Linked DNA regions of Homo sapiens. The protein of the gene in region 2 interacts with the protein of the main gene of each other region in a pairwise test. Each region holds a gene or a part of one and is shown on either strand. Other genes may lie near its edges.

Region 1 (3,898 bases), on a different chromosome or scaffold from region 2:
GAGACCAGTCTGGCCAATACCGTGAAACCCTGTCTACTACTAAAACCTGGGCGTGGTGGCGTCCACCTGTAGTCCCAGCTACTCAGGAGGCTGACGCAGGAGAATCACTTAAACCCAGAAGCCGGAGGTTGCATTGAGCAGAGATTGGGCCACTGCGCTCCAGCCTGGGCAACAGAGGGAGACTCCATCCAAAAAAAAATAAAGCTGTTATAAATTGAGTATCCCTACTCTGAAAAATTTGAAATCCAAAACTTTTCTTTTTTCCATCCTTGAACCTGAGTGAGCTACAAAAGTTTTTGAGTGCTGTCATGACAACAGAAATGCTCATTGGAGCATTTAGGATTTTAGATTTTCAGATAAGAGATGTTCAACTACTAAGTATAATGCACATATTCCAAAATCCAAAAAAAAAATGTGAAATCCAAAACACTTCTGATCCCAAGCATTTTGGATAAAGGATACTCAACCTTTATGAAAATAAAATCAGTGTGGGTAAGCAGCACCCTAGAAGAGAATGATTTCACTGTTCTTAGTGAAACATTTTTGCATTCAGAGACATTACGAAGGAAAATCCTACTTCTTGGGGCGGAAATCTAGACCCCCTGGGAAAGCGTATGCCTATGTCAGAAAAGCATAGTACTTGAGAAGCAATGTTTTCAGACAAGAACCTCACTGCATTTAACCCAATATCATTAGCATTTTAATTTGGAGACTTGTCTAAGCATCATTTCATTTATGTAATGTCTTCCATGGTAGATGAAGAAGATAAGGATAGTTTACAGGAACTCTCTACAGAACAGAAATGCTTTGTTGAACACATCCTTTGTACGAAGCCATTGCCCTGCAGGTAAGGACTCTCCCTCCCTTGTATATCAGAAAACAATTGTTCATTTCAGCAGTTCAGATACGTTTGTATCCGTTACACTCACATCCACAGTATTCACTGCTGAGTCATTTGAAAGTTGCAGACGTGATACTTCTCCCCTAAGAGTGTCCTGCTCATCAGAAGCTTTCTCCTCTCCAGGGCCACTCGACATACTGTTTCCTGACTGGAAGGTCCTTCCCCAGCCCCAGCCCCAGCCCCAGCTTGCTGTCTTCTCTTGGCTAACTCCTACCCTTCTTTCTGATCTTAATGTCACTTCTTCACAGAGAACACCCTTGACTCCCCAGTCTAACTTGGGGCTCTCCTATTCTCTTATCCATTGTAGCACATATTACACTATTTATATTTGCATTTTTTTAATGTCTGTCGCCACTACCGGAATGTATATGTTTCATGAGAGCAGAGACTGTGTCTGCCCTTCACTGCATTGCTGTGTTTATTTGATGTGGTTGCCCATGTCTCCTCTTTGAAACACATTCTCCTTGGCATCCTTGACGTCTGTCCCTCCAGGTTCTCCTTCAGTCCCGCCAGCAGCCCTTTTCTCAAGTTTCCTTCTTGGGCGGGTTCCTCTGCCTCTACTCACTGCTTATAAGTAATGCTCACAACTCTTTCCTTGGGTCTTCTCTATTCTTTCTAGGTCCTTTCCTGAGTAACTTCTGCCGTAATCATGGCTTCAGTGCTGACAGTTCCCGCATCCATATCGCCCTAGCCCAGACCACTCTGAACTCCAGATTCACATACCCAGCTGCCTACTGGGCTCCTCCACTTGGATATCCTATAGGAACATAAAACTCCAGATGTCCCCTTAACTCATCTTCTGTCTTTCCAAATCTGCTCTCTCTCCTGTGTCCCATTTTTCTGAAGGGTGCCATATCACCCCAGTTATCCCCAGTAGAAACCTGGAAGGTATTCTAGATACCTCCCTTTATTCTGTTCATCAATTACTAGATATCTCATAAGCACTCTGTTAGACATGGAGTATACACAGACATGAGACAAATAGCATACACTAAGAAATAGACATAATCTAGGTTTGGCAATACAGAGGACCACAGGGAAAACGCTTGGTGGGGAATGAGAAGGATAGCAAACTGTACCAGCTTGAAAAGTGAACAGTGAAACCAGGCACTGTGGCTTACGCCTATAATCCCAGCATTTTGGGAGATCGAGGTGGGTGGATCACACGGTCAGGAGTGCAAGACCAGCCTGGCCAAGATGGTGAAACCCCATCTCTGCTAAAAACTACAAAAATTAGCCAGGCATGGTGGCAGACACCTGCAATCCCAGCTACTCGGGAGGCTGAGGCAGGAGAATTGCTTGAACCCGGGCAGCACAGGTTGCAGTGAGCTGAGATCATGCCACTGCACTCCAGTCTGGGTGACAGAGTGAGACTCCATCTCAAAAAAAAAAAAAAAAAAAGAAAAGTGAACAAGGAAAATACATAATAAAATCCCATGTAGGCTGGGCATGGTGGCTTACACCTATAATCCCAGCACTTTGTCAGGTGAGGCAGGAGGATCACTTGAGGCCAGGAGTTTGAGACCAGCCTGGGCAACATAGTGAGACCCTTTACAAAAAAATTTAAAAATTAGCTAGGTGAGGCCAGGCGTGGTGGCTCACGCCTGTAATCCCAGCACTTTGGGAGGCTGAGGCAGGCGAATTACTAGGTCAGGAGTTCGAGACCAGCCTGGCCAACGTGGTGAAACCCCGTCTCTACTAAAATACAAAAAAAAAATTAGCTGGGTGTAGTGGCGGGCACCTGTAATCCCAGCTACTCAGGAGGCTGAGGCAGGAGAATCGTATGACCCTGGGAGGTGGAGGCTGCAGTGAGCCAAGATCATGTCACTGCACTCCAGCCTGGGCAACAGAGTGAGACTCCGTCTCAAACAAAAAAAAAAATTAGCCACTGTGGTAGCATGTACCTGTGGTCCCAGCTACTCAGGAGGCTGAGAAGGAAGGATTGTTTGAGCCCACGAGGTCAAGGCTGCAGTGAGTCGTGATCGCACTATTGCACTCCAGCCTCGGCAACAGAGTGAGACCCTATCTCAAAAAAACCCCAAAATCCCATTTATATCAATTTCAGAAACAGGTAAAATTAAACAGTCTTGCCTAGGAGTGAATACATAGATAGGAAAACTATAAAGCAAAGCAAAGACATGATATTATGAATGTCAGAGTAGCGGCTACTTCTCTGGGGAGTGAAAGGCTATGACCAGGGAAGGTCGCATGGGAACCCTGAGGCCCCCTGCAGTGTCCTGATTCTTGACCTGGATACTGGTTACATAGTGTATAGCCCAGTAGTGTGTAGATTTCACACTGATAATAAAAAGTTAAAGTTTACAACCTTCCAGATATCGTCTCCATGTCTTGTCCAAAAAGGTAAATGGGAGCTATGGAAGGGGAACTAGTGTTTTCAACTGCTGTTTAAAGACTGCTGGTTCTAAAGGGATGGCGAGAAAGAATAGGTTAAGGGGAACTGGACATTATATTGAAATGAGAGTATTTTAAATGGAAGAGACATGAGTTTGCAAGCTGAGGGGAAGTAGATAATAGGGAGATTTTGAAACGACACAGTTGATGGTACAATTTTCAGAAGGTGTGAGAGGAGGCGGCATCCACATTCGGGGGCAGATGTGTGTTGTAGGCATGCAGGTGGGATGGGCATGGGAGCCGCTAGGAGAGCATGTTGGCAGAATGACAGTTCCCATCTGAGGTCTCAGTTTCCAGTGTCTTCACTGAAGTGGGAAGGAAGACTGAGAGAGATACACGCTGTGCGTGCCAAGTGATTTCCTGTGACATTGACATTGGGCCTCATTGAGAGAGACTCGGTAGTTCTGTTCATTCAACAGTTTCTAAGCACTTAATTTGTTAGCACTGGGCTAGGCAAACAAAGATAGCTGGGGCTTATGTGCAAGTTGGAGAGATCTTCAGTGTAACGTGTAACTTTTGAGATTACAGTCAGCAGCACGCTACAGTTAGGGATTCCTGAGTGACTTAGTCACATGGGCTCTAGAC
Region 2 (5,419 bases):
AAGAATTAGGTTTCACTGTCAAAAACAGTAAACTGTAGTTTTTACAAAAAGTCATAACACTGAAAATAGAAAAGAACCCAAATCAAATGTCAGTGACTGCCATTACAGTAAGAAAGATGGTGTCAGAGGAGACAGAAAACACTGGCAGGGCGGTGGACTATGATGACACTTGGACTCTCCTGCTGGTTCCACTGGCACTATCCTGACATTAGAGCAGTCTCCTTGAGGCTTGACAGCTTTGGGTATAATGATCTCTACAGTGCCTTCCAAATTTGAAATTTCCTATTTATTGTTCATTAAATTACTTGGCAGGACCTCAACTAAAGATGCTTGATTTTTCCCCATGAAACACACTCTGGTGGCTTGCAGAGTGGACAATTTGCTAAGAAGCAAAACTGGAGCTGCATTAAGCTGTAACAGATCCAGCCAATTAGGCCAAACAAGTTCCTGAGACCACATGTGCTCCAAGCTGTCTTCTTTAACCTACAGATTATTTTTGGGTTTTGAGTCTCCCCTTTAATTACAAAAGTAATAGGGGTCTGTTGCTAATGTTTCAAATAGCAGAGAGGGAAACAAGTAAAAAGCTTCCACAAATTCTTACCTGAAGCTTGGCAAAAGCTGAACCCAGAGGTTGCTGCTGTTGTGGTGGCAGCTGAGGTACCACCAAAGACAGAGCCTCCCTGTCCAAAGCCAGGACTCTGCCCAAAAGCAGGAGCGTTGCTTTGGCCAAACAGCCCCCCTCCTGTGTTGGGAGAAGACTGTCCAAATGAGAAGGAACTGGAGCTACTGGTACTTGAGGCGGCACCAAAGACACTTCCACTGGTGGATGTGGGAGTGGAGGAAGCAGGCTGACCGAAGGCAGGCACGGAACTGAACCCAGGCTGACTGAAGGAAAAGACACTTGCAGCACTGCTCGCCGACTGCCCAAAGACTGAGGCCTGCCCGAAGGTTGTCTGTCCAAAGACCCCTGGGGCTGTGGTACCAAAAGCTGGGCTGCTAAACCCTGAGCTGCTGACCTGTGGTGTGGCAGCTGCTGTGCTGGCTGTGCTACCAGTCTGCTGCCCAAACAGACTTGGTGCGGTGCTGGCTGCCACTTGCCCAAACACGGGCGTGGCAGAGGGGGCAGTGGCTGTGTTGTTGGTGAGCTGGTTGAAAGCTGAGCTAGAACTGGCAGCAGGAGGCTGAGCAAAGACGGATGAGCCAGAAGTGACGGTACCAAATGCTGCTGCCTCTGCAGATGGGCCGGGAGCAACAATGGACGTGGTGCTGGAGGCTATGGGGGTACTTGATGTTTCGACGGCCACAGGGCCTGCACTTGAGATAGCAGCTGCTGTGACAGCAGTCTGCCCAGGCACAGAAAAGGAGGAAGCAGGTGGTACTGCCTCCGTCCTGGCATCAGGGACCCCCGTGGTGGCTGGGGTAGCCTCTGCAGAAAGTGCTACAAGACTAGTACTAGATGCTGCAGTGCCAGAGTTGCTGACTGCAGGCTGGGCAAGAACAGGTTCTTTTTTAACAGAGTCAGAAGTTTGCGGAGGAGCCTGGGGAAGCTGGGCTGACTGTTGCTCCTCTAGAAGTGAGGCTGCTGATGCTGAGACCTCACTGTCACCTGGCTTCTCAGGCAAAGCTGATGAAGTGGCCTCTTCTGTGCTTCTGCCAGCGGACATAGGCAGGGAGGGGGTAGTTGCTGAACTCAGGAGGCTACCAAATGACAATGTGGGGAATGATGTTGGAAGGGGAGTGGCAGCTGTAGTTGGTGGTGGGGCAGATGGGGGCACTGTGCTATTGGTCTGTTGGCTTCCAAATGAAAAACTAGTCTTGCCAGCACTTAGAGATGTCCCACCAAAACTGATGACCCCAGAGGATCCTGCACTGGTGACTGGCAGACTGCCAAAAACGGCAGTTGAGGAAGTGCTGGTGGCTGCTGGTGGTGCTACTGAGGTGGTGGTTGCAGAGGATGTCACAGGGGGCTCCGTGTGCTTCCCTAACACCGGGGGGGCAGTAAAATTAAACCCTGAGGGCACGCCTGACGTCTTGGTTGGCTGGGTACTAGTTAGGCTTGTGGATGAAGCCTTATTGGTTGGTTTTGTAGAATCATCTGCTTGGCCAACCCGCAGTCCTGAAAAACTTCCCAGAGTCTCTCCAGCCAAAGAACTTGGAAACAGAAGCTCTCCCAGCTTGGACGGTGGGGTTTCCAGCTTACTAGAGGTGGTGGAAAGAGCAGTTCCAGAAGGTGCCACAGGTCTGCTGCTAGATGCGGCAGGTTCTCCTGGGGTGGTGTTTGATGCGGATGTGATTCCTGAGGGAGGTGAGCTTTCAGGAATGGCCTCATAAGAAGGTTTGCTTCCCCCACCAGATGAGAATGCGTCCGGCTGGCTTGACTCTTTAGTGGAGGGTGTTGCCCCTAGCAAGAAAAAGAAATCAGAAAATGGGTTGGATTTAGCAAAAGATGACCCATTACATTTCCACTGATTGTGTTTCTAAGCCAAAGTTTCTCTCCTCCCTCTACAGAGTCAGGGTGCCTTGTTCTCACAGCAGCTTTCTCTAAGGAGGTGGAATGAGTGCTTCTCCACACAAACATCAGCTCTGAGTCGTCTGAGGTGAAAAGGAAAAAATACTTTTTTTATGACCATTAAATCACAACAAATACAAAATATCTAGAATATGTGAAATTAACATATTATCCCAAAGAGAAATAAAAAAGCCTCTTCCCTTAATTTACCCTAGCTGTGTGCTTTCCTTAATAACATCCTCAGCACAGCAATGGCCTGTGGACCTCCTGATAGACCAGGACTTGATTCAAAATGGAAGTTCTTCCTTCATTTTTATGAGCAAATAAAGTGTCAGTCCACAGAAAATCATTTTTATGTACAATTAATGGCTACTTATTAGTGCTCTACTAAGTCAGCTATTTGACAGAGGCAGTACGGTCTGGTGGTCAAGGACATGGGCTCTGGAGCTATGCACTCTGCCACTCGCTGGTTGTGTGAATCTGGAAAGGTTGCTTTACCTCTCTGAGCCTCAATTCCCCCATTTGGAAAATCTAGATCATTACAATACCTACCTTCATTGTGCTGTTACAAAGATCGCAGGAAATATGGGTAAAGCACCCATAAGGCCTGGTCAAACAACAGTGGTTAATAAATACAAGAGTAACGAGGCCGGGCGTGGTGGCTCACACCTGTAATCCCAGCACTTTGGGAGGCCAAGGCACGTGGATCACGAGGTCAGGAGTTCGAGACCAGCCTGATCAATCAACATGGTGAAACCCTGTCTCTACTAAAAATACAAAAATTAGCTGGATGTGGTGGTGGGCGCCTGTAATCCCAGCTACTAGGGAGGCTGAGGCAGGAGAATCGCTGGAACCCAGCAGGTGGGGGTTGCAGTGAACTGCAATTGCGCCATTACACTCCAGCCTGGATGACAACAGTGAGACTCCATCTCAAAATAAATAAATAAAATAAAAGACTTAATCATAAACGGATAACTGAAAGGCACTTAACAAATAGATCTGGTTTCTTTATAGGGCTTCAAATTCTTTTAAATGTTAAAAACATGCTATTGATGGATTTTTTGGCGCGGGGGGGGGGGGGGACACACAGAGTTTCACTCTTGTTGCCCAGGCTGGAGTGCAATGGCACAATCTTGGCTCACTGCAACCTTGCCTCCCAGGTTCAAGCAATTCTCCTGCCTCAGCCTCCTGAGTAGCTGGGATTATAGGTATGCGCCACCACGGCTGGCTAATTTTGTATTTTTAGTAGACACGGGGTTTCTCCATGTTGGTCAGGCTGGTCTTGAACTCCTGACCTCAGGTGATCCGCCTGCCTCGGCCTCCCAAAGTGCTGGGATTATAGGCGTGAGCCACCGCGCCCAGTCTATTGATGGATTTTTAACAACATGCATGGGATGAGTGTGTTTGCTGGTATGTTATCAAGGAAAAAAACGAGTTTGGTCTTTCATTTCTACAGTCTATCTATTACCATGTCTATCTTGCCCTACAGAATCACCCTATAAATTGAAGAAATTTTAAATTACAGACAAAAAATGGAGAAATTTTAATTCACATGTTAACATTTAAATGTTAAAGCACAGCCCTGATTTTCTAGAAGCAAATCCTTTCCTTGTCCTTAATTATAAAAATAGAAATCCTTCACATCAGTTTCTTAAATTAAGCATATTTCTAATGCACATTATCAACACTGAGCTTATTGCAGATACTGTAAGTAAGATTCAGGAACAAGTCAAATACTAACATGTGGGCAAAAATAACCTGTACTTATTTAGAGAAAACACATGAGTAATGCTACTCAACACAGAGTCTGTACCTTGTGCAGCAGTGAAATTAGAAGACGGTGTTGGTGTGATTATCCCAAAATTAAAGCCAGTCCTAACAAGTGGAAAAAGAGAAATTAAAAAGGAACAAACCAAGGCACAATATTGCCCTCTTAATATTCCATTTTATCATTCATTCATACAAACCGCCCTCAGGAATTTACAATCTAGAAGATAAATGACAACAGAGTCAAAGCACCTATCTCAGAAGCAGTAAGGCCACTCTATGATCTCTAAGCAGAGAAGCAGTTTGTGTGTGAGATACGACAGGGATAGCAGTTGAGAGCCCATTGGGGGATGGCTGGGCTTTCTGTAGCAGAAGTTTGAGTGGGGACTTCTTGCAAGATGAGCAAAGCTGCAGCAGTAGAGACACATGACAAATGTGCATGTGGGAATGGTGGCCGGAGCAGATGGTCTGTTAAGTGAGGGGACAGAAGGAAGGTCTGGTAAGACAGAAGCACTTAAGACTAGGGAGAGCCTCTCAGAACCCCTCCAAGACCAACAAGCATGTCAGAGAGCCCCACACTGCTAGGGAAAACAATGGATACAATGAAATAGAAGCCCTAACTCAGTCATTTTGACAGAACTGAGTTTTACGGCTAGGAAAATCTAGTTCAAAAACTTTGTGACTCCTTTCACCATCTCCTCTCTCCTTTTGTACGTTTTCTTTACACTGTAAGTGAAGACACCATAGCTAAGGAAGAAAATCCCACGCGAGTGTGAATCAGAACAGATTATTCACTGTGATAAAAACTCAGGCCAGGCATGGTGGCTCACATCCCAGCATTTTGAGAGGCTGAGGCAGGTTAATCCTTTGAGCCCAGGAGTTTGAGACCAGCCTAGGCAACATGGTGGAACCCTGTTTCTACAAAACAAAAACAAAAACCCAAAAACCAAACAAACAAAAACAAAAACCCCCAAAAACCAAAACCGAAAAATTAAAAAACAAAAATCAGCCAGGTGTGGTGGCGCGCACCTGTAGTCCCAGTTATTCGGGGGGCTAAGGCAGGAGGATCACTTCAGTCCTGGGGGTGGAGGTTGTAGTGAGCCATGACTGTACCACTGCACCTTTTTTTTTTTTTGAGACAGA

The links.
Region 1: the proteins of NUP214 (region 2) and NUP88 interact in binary tests that used the Homo sapiens proteins (3 or more experiments, as listed by UniProt).

What each region holds. Positions count from the first base shown.
Region 1 is NC_000017.11:5,391,840-5,395,737, reverse strand, and holds part of NUP88 (nuclear pore complex protein Nup88), read left to right. Parts: intron 1-756; coding exon 757-847; intron 848-3,898. UniProt on the Homo sapiens protein: Component of nuclear pore complex.
Region 2 is NC_000009.12:131,194,198-131,199,616, reverse strand, and holds part of NUP214 (nuclear pore complex protein Nup214), read right to left. Parts: intron 4,385-5,419; coding exon 4,323-4,384; intron 2,402-4,322; coding exon 602-2,401; intron 1-601. UniProt on the Homo sapiens protein: Part of the nuclear pore complex. Has a critical role in nucleocytoplasmic transport.